Regions from separate parts of the Homo sapiens genome. Here region 1 is reported to be linked to region 2. The links are microRNA targets in miRTarBase. Many come from high-throughput screens and were not tested one by one. Region 2 holds a microRNA gene; the other region holds the end of a gene's coding sequence.
Evidence for each region. Region 2 holds the annotated microRNA hsa-miR-548g-3p (AAAACUGUAAUUACUUUUGUAC, at 1,101-1,122, opposite strand). A microRNA usually pairs through its seed, bases 2 to 8, with sites in the 3' UTR of a target mRNA and lowers its output. Matches are read on the target gene's strand: a 7mer-m8 pairs with bases 2 to 8, a 7mer-A1 pairs with bases 2 to 7 and ends in A, and an 8mer does both.

Region 1: miRTarBase lists RPS16 as a target of hsa-miR-548g-3p. Seed matches in the 3' UTR shown: 7mer-m8 at 2,685-2,691.

Annotation. Positions count from the first base shown.
Region 1 is chr19:39,430,548-39,433,958 of GRCh38, forward strand. RPS16 (ribosomal protein S16) reads right to left here. Exons shown (of 5, transcript NM_001020.6): 3 at 3,118-3,214; 4 at 2,975-3,022; 5 at 2,590-2,871. The coding sequence ends at 2,726. Among named protein-coding and RNA genes, the nearest start is that of RPS16, 3.7 kb to the right of the region's middle. RefSeq lists an enhancer at 897-1,016.
Region 2 is chrX:32,640,386-32,643,796 of GRCh38, forward strand. It overlaps MIR548F5 (microRNA 548f-5), which reads right to left and starts at 1,174; the gene lies at 1,089-1,174. All of the region lies in intron 11 of DMD (dystrophin), which reads right to left.

The sequences.
Region 1 (3,411 bases), not on the chromosome of region 2:
GTGTCAGTGCTGTCCCATATAACCTTCCTTGATGACGGAAATGTTCTAATATGTGCAGCCCCGCTTGGTAGCCATACATGGCTTCTGAGCACTGGCTACTGTATTAACTAGGGTAGATACATAGAAAGTGGGCAAGTGGACAGAAAATCTCAAGTTGTAAAACATTCCCCCTGAGCATTTAGGTGCGGGACTTCCCTATTGGCTGCAGAGGCTGGAACTAGGAAGTAGAAATCTCTGCGCTCCCCAAACAATGAAGTTCACTCGCTTCCTATGAGTCATTAGCCACTCAACGAAGTCCTCACTTAACGTCATCAATAGGTTCTGGGAAACCGTGACCTTAAGCGAAACGACGTATAAGGAAACCAGTTTGTTTAAAGGACTGTTATTACAGGATCTGCTTGTTTTGCTTAAGTCCGTTTCCAAGCACCTATACAAAACGCTGAGGATGCACTGTGCTTTGAAGCCCAACTCCTCTTCCAGCACCGGCAGCAACCCTTGCGTCATTTGTGACTCCTTGGGAGGGGGAAGAGGGCTGTGGTCACTCAGTGCCCCATGACGAGCACATGGCCCGGCACAGGTGTTCAAGGAAAGTGAATGAGCAAGTTGAGGCCACAGACACCCGAAAACAACTCATCACAGACATGGTCTCCCTGGCTACTCTTCCTACCGGCCAGCAGACCCTGGTTCCCATGTCCTCTCCCCCAAGGAGTCCACCTGACTCCTCCAGGCTGTCAGGCACCGCTTGAGTCCCACAGCCTCTTGTGCTTTTCCCACAAGCGGCCACCCTGACTCCTTAGCTCCTCATGTTGAGGGGCCACAGGGTAGAGATGGGGCCTCTTGAGCAGATCTGTGACAACCTAAACTAGTAGTCAAGAACCTGGGCTCTAGGTCGGGCGCGGTGGCTCACGCCTGTTAATCCCAGCACTTCGAGAGGCCAAGGCAGGGGGATCTACCTGAGGTCAGGAGTTCAAGATCAGCCTGGATAACATAGTGAAACCCACGTCTCTACTAAAAATACAAAAATCAGTCAGGTGTGGTGGCACTTGCCTGTAGTCCCAGCTACTCAGGAGGCTGAGGCAGAATTGCTTGAACCCGGAAGGCGGAGGTTGCAGTGAGCTGAGATTGTGCAGCTACACTCCAGCCTGGGTGACAGAGCAAGACTCCGTCTCCAAAAAAAAAAAAGGCGGGGGGGGGGGGGCAGGTGTGGCGGCTCACACTTGTAATCCCAGCACTTTGGGAGGCCATGGCGGGTAGATTACCTGAGGTCAGGAGTTCCAGACCAGCCTGGCCAACGTGGTGAAACCGTCTCTACTAAAAATAGAACAATTAGCTGGGCAAGGTGGCAGGCGCCTGTAATCCCAGCTACTCGGGAGGCTGAGACAGGAGAATTGCTTGAACCCGGGAGGCGGAGGTTGCGGTGAGCCGAGATCACGCCATTGCACTCCAGCCAGGGATACAAGAGCAAAACTCTGTCTCAAAAAAAAGAAAAAGAAAAAAAAAGAACCTGGGGTCTTCCACAGCCCGGTTACCTGTCCAAAATGCCACTTTGGGCTCGGCATGGTGGCTCATGCCTGTAATCCCAGCACTTTGGGAGGCTGTGGCAGGAGGATCACTTGAGGTTAGGAGTTCAAGACCAGCCTTGCCAACATGGTGAAACCCCATCTCTACTAAAAATACAAAAATTAGGCTGGGTGCAGTGGCTCACGCCTATAATCCCAGCGCTTTAGGAGGCAGAGTCGGGTGATCACTTGAGGTCAGGATTTCAAGACCAACCTTGCCAACATGTTGAAACCCTGTCTCTACTTAAAAAAAAAAAAATTAGCTGGGTGTGGCAGGCGCCTGTTCAAGCAATTCTTTCCTTCAGCCTCCCAAGTAGCTGGATTACAGGCGCCTGCCACCATACCTAATTTTTGTACTTTTAATAGAGATGAGGTTTCACCATCTTGGCCAGGCTGATCTTTAACTCCTGACCTTGTAATCCACCAGCCTTGGCCTCTCAGAGTGATGGGATTACAGTCGTGAGCCACCGTGCCCGACTCTCCTTGTTTTCTTTGTATTAAAGATTATTGGCTAGGCATGGTAGCTCACACCTGTAACCTGGACACATTGGGAAGATGAGGCAGGAGGATTGCCTGAGGTCAGGAGACCACGCCTGGGCAACATAGTGAGACCTGTCTCTACAAAAACAAAAATTCAGCTGGGGGTGGTGGCTCTCGCCTGTAATCCCAGCACTTTGGGAGGCCCGGGAAGGCGGATCACTTGAGGTCAGGAGTTTGAGACCAGCCTGACCAACACAGTGAAACCCATCGATACTAAAAATACAAAATTAGCATGGCGTGGTGGTGGGTACCTGTAATCCAAGCTATTTGGGAGGCTGGGCTTGAAAAAAATAGACATCCACAAGGATGAGCCATATATCCGCCAAGGTCTGCAGCCACTAATGGCCCCAAACGACTGCCATCTCAGCTTTGCCTGCACACTGGACTCTACTGGAGGTGTAGAGACAGAGACCCCCTGCCTTCTGCTTCCACTCACCCACACCAAGCCCAGCGCGACCACTTCTGGGGAGGGTCAAAATCCAGACTGGCAATAGGTCCAGGATGTTTACTGATTTCTGTCTGGTTAAACATCCAATACCAACACATAAGGCCACACACAGTTCTTGAAACTTTAAAATCCCTCAAAAACTGTTTATTATACAAGTGAGTTTTGAGTCACGATGGGCTTATCGGTAGGATTTCTGGTAGCGAGCGCGGGCACCAGGGCCTCCAAACTTTTTGGACTCGCAGCGACGAGGGTCAGCTACCAGCAGGGTCCGGTCATACTGGATGAGGATGTCTTTGATCTCCTTCTTGGAAGCCTCATCCACATCTGGCAAGAAGAGCAGGGACGAGGATTTAGATAATCACACAGAGTCCTTGACTTGATCCCCACACACCCATCTACCTCATGGGAAGGACCCATGCTCACTCACATTTCTGGTAATAGGCCACCAGGGCTTTGGAGATGGACTGACGGATAGCTGTGAGAAAGACACACAATTAAAGGGTACAGGAGCGCTGTGAAGGCCTCCCTCCCAGAGCCACCTCCTCCATGCGCCCAGTTCCTGGGACTCACCATAAATCTGGGCCACGTGACCACCACCCTTTACACGGACACGGATGTCTACACCAGCAAATCGCTCCTTGCCGAGAAGCAGAACTGGCTCCAGCAGCTAAAGGAATGGGGAATGAACAGGGATTTAAGTTACATGCTGGGCAGCTTAGCCATCTCACTGGGCTTCTTGTTTCTGTGGCTTCTGCCACCACTGGCCTTCAAGTACTAGTGGATGGGGGTCAGGGTGTCACTCCAAGGCCCTCTACAGACCCAGAGAAGAGGAAAGTCAAAAAAGCCAGATATGAGACTGCTGAA
Region 2 (3,411 bases):
GTGTTTGAGAAAGCAAGCCCTTATTCCTTAGGCAAACTGGAGAGGATTTTATGTAAGGCAGAAATCAGGGCACGCTATTATCTTTGTATTTTTAATATTTCTTGTTTTGCATAATTGTTGATGGTTTATGGGATAAATATTATTTCCTAGATGCAACTTGAATAATAGTAACTGTGGGCACAAATTGAAGCAGTCTATTTCCAAAGGAAAAAGCACTTTTACTGTCAAAAGGAAAAAAAAATAGGAACTAAAACTAAACAGAGAAGTGGTTTTTAAAATAACTAAATGGCTAAGATAGTAAAGTATACTTTTATCACAACTACCAGCTGGTCTAAGACACTACTGTGTCTTAACTGGCCAACTTCACTGGCCTAATAACTGTCCTCTCTTCCTCCAGTGGCCTTCCTGATAGGTTTTCTTGACCTATCTCTCACCTACATAAAATCTGATGGCTTTGTCTTGCACTTAGTCTAGAATTCAAAGCCCTTATTCAAAGCCCTGACTGACACTACAATATGTAATCAGTCTCCTACCTATATTTCAACCCCATCTCAGACCTCAGCCATCTAACTTACCACCCTGCAACTCTACAGTCCCCCTGGCCTTTTGGTTCCTCCAGCAAGCCAAACTGTCCCTATTTTTGGGCCTTTGCATTAGCTGTTCCTAATCCGTGAACCACACTTCCTTGTGATCTGCAAATAGTGGTACCTTCTTGTCATTCAAATCTCAAACTAAATGGTACCAACCTTCAAAGTCTTACCTGGATCACAAAGTCTAAAGTAGCCTCCCCTCAACCATTCTCTATCACATTACATTTTAATCTCTTCAAAAACTATATTCCTATCCGGTATTTTTCTTGTGTTCTTTTTTTTCTTGGCTGCCAGCCTCTACAGAATATGTTTCATGAGATCTGGGGCCAGACCTTGTATGATCATTATTGAGTCTCCAGTGCCATTAATTGTTTTTGATAATGTATTCCATTAATATTTGTTCATATAGAGAGATATATGTGTATTTTATACGTATATATATATATATATATATATATATATCTCACAATGACTATATATCAAATATAATTTGATGTTGCTATTAGGTTGGTACAAAAGTAATTACAGTTTTTCCCATTACTTACAATGGAAAAAAACATGATTACTTTTGCAGCAACCTAATAGTAAGTATGTTGGTAGATAGGATTAATAATTGCTAAGTGTAAATGTTCATAGATTTTAGTGATAAGCTTATCTGTATTTACAAGAAGTTTTTAACTTTTGTTATATCAACTTAGAAATTATAGCATAGCTTTGGATATACTTAATATGACTAGACAAATGTTAATTATCATTTCTCTAATCGCTAAACCAAGGCTTAGGCAGGAAATAATGGCTTCCGACTGGATCTATCCAAACCCTGTCTTAGGTAGAGAGAGAAAAGAAGTATCGATGAATCCATTTTTGTTTACTAGTAATCTTCTACTCTGAAGTAATCATATATTTAGAAAAAAAATAGGTAATGCTCCAAGTTGAAGCTAATCATTGGAGATAATCCATTCTCATGACCATGATAATGGAAACTGAACAGGTTATAATTTATTTGAAGCATTAAGTAAAACCTAGATTAGTTTTTTAAAAATAATGACAATACCCTCTTTTCATAATCACGTTTTTTGTTTCCTCTCACAAAATCTTTCAAAAATCAGGTTCAGCAAAGCTTACATAATGGCTTATCACATTAGAATTTAATAGGTTTTATGCACGAACACATACATAGTCAAAGTGGCAAGGAAGACTGTTATTTATAAACTCTCATATTATTTCTGAATTTGTGTTGCTCAAATAATGCTTTGTATATTCATTTTTAAGGAATTTTCCAGAAAAGTCTATGTGATAGAAGTGGTTACATGTACGTGTCTCATTTTAAAAACTCTGTGAGATGTTTTAGCAAAAGCTATACCAGCTAGAAGGCTCTCCTTGCCTTCTTAATAATTATTCTAAAAGCTGTAACACGTACAAAAGCTCTTGAATCTTCCCTAAGGACAAACTAATTTTTTATGTCAATCTCAGCTAGGTGGTAATACTGCCATTTTAGCATTTCCATTCTCTAGTGGGATGGGGATGAGGAAATTACACGCACAGAAGTCTAGGTGTCTGTCATCCTTCACTTAATGGCAGACATCCCTTGAAGGGGGGAATTTTTGAATGAACATCTTTTTAAATGTTAGAATCACAGATAAAAGACTTTTTTTATGTTTCAGATAAGCAAAGAAAAAGTTGCAATTTTAATTCCAGGAGGAATTCATATTTTCTTGCAACTCAATTTCACACAGCAATTAATTAACTGATTAGTATGAATAATTAATGCCATATTGTTAGTTTTATTGAAAATGGGGAGTGTAAGAAAAATGAGAGCATTTAGCCTCCAGGAGAGGATGGAAACCTAGAGTGCACAAAGGAGAAGACACTGGTGGCTATTATGGCAAGGACAGTAAAGAGGTGGTTGGATTTTCAAAACTTTCTAATTTTGTTTGAGGTTGCTTTAAGTTCCACAGATCACTGCAAATAGAAGTTCTAACCTGAAGAATGTTGGCATATGACCACAGAAGGCAGCTTATATCTTAATATCGATAATAGATGGAGTAAATTAGTGGACCTGGTAAACACTGGGGAGTGGGCAGACTCAACAGTTATAATATGATTATTGTACCTCTCACATCTAGGGGTAGTGACAATCATCACCACGATCACAGCAGGCGAATAATATCAATATGCATAGATTAGTATCTCCTGGCTTGGAATACATATATAGTTATGAAACCTCTATCTTACATGTACCTTATTTATTCTTTCAAAAGGCCTGAGCTTAAAAATGTGTTTTTCCCCTCCATAATTTCACACTATAATTTAGTACTGGAATACCAATCCTTCTAGCATATCTAATGAGTTTCCTTGGTCCTTTTTTTTTTTTAACGCTTTTGAACTTCATAAATAATAGTTAAATAAACTTAAGGCATTTGGACAATTTTTTTCACTTAATGTATTCAAATCCACAGTTGGCACTTCATTTCTTTTCATTTAAAAATAAATCTATCTTGTCTTGATAGGCTTTACATGAATATACACACCTAACAATATAAATCAAAACACATATCCAGAATGATGAGATCTGCTTGTTACCTTTATAAGAAATATGTCATTTTTCAGAAATGTCTCAAATCCTCTTTTTTATTAAGTCAATATATATTCTTAAGATAATTCATAGCCATACTGTATTTTAATAAGAATTTCCCAAAACGTTTGAATAATGTTTTTCAAGAGGATTTCCATATATAGATGAGTAACTCTTTAATATTTTCAAGGGCTTTTTCTTCAGAAGAGAAGTTTCGTGTCAACTATAGCTAATAGGTGATTTTAT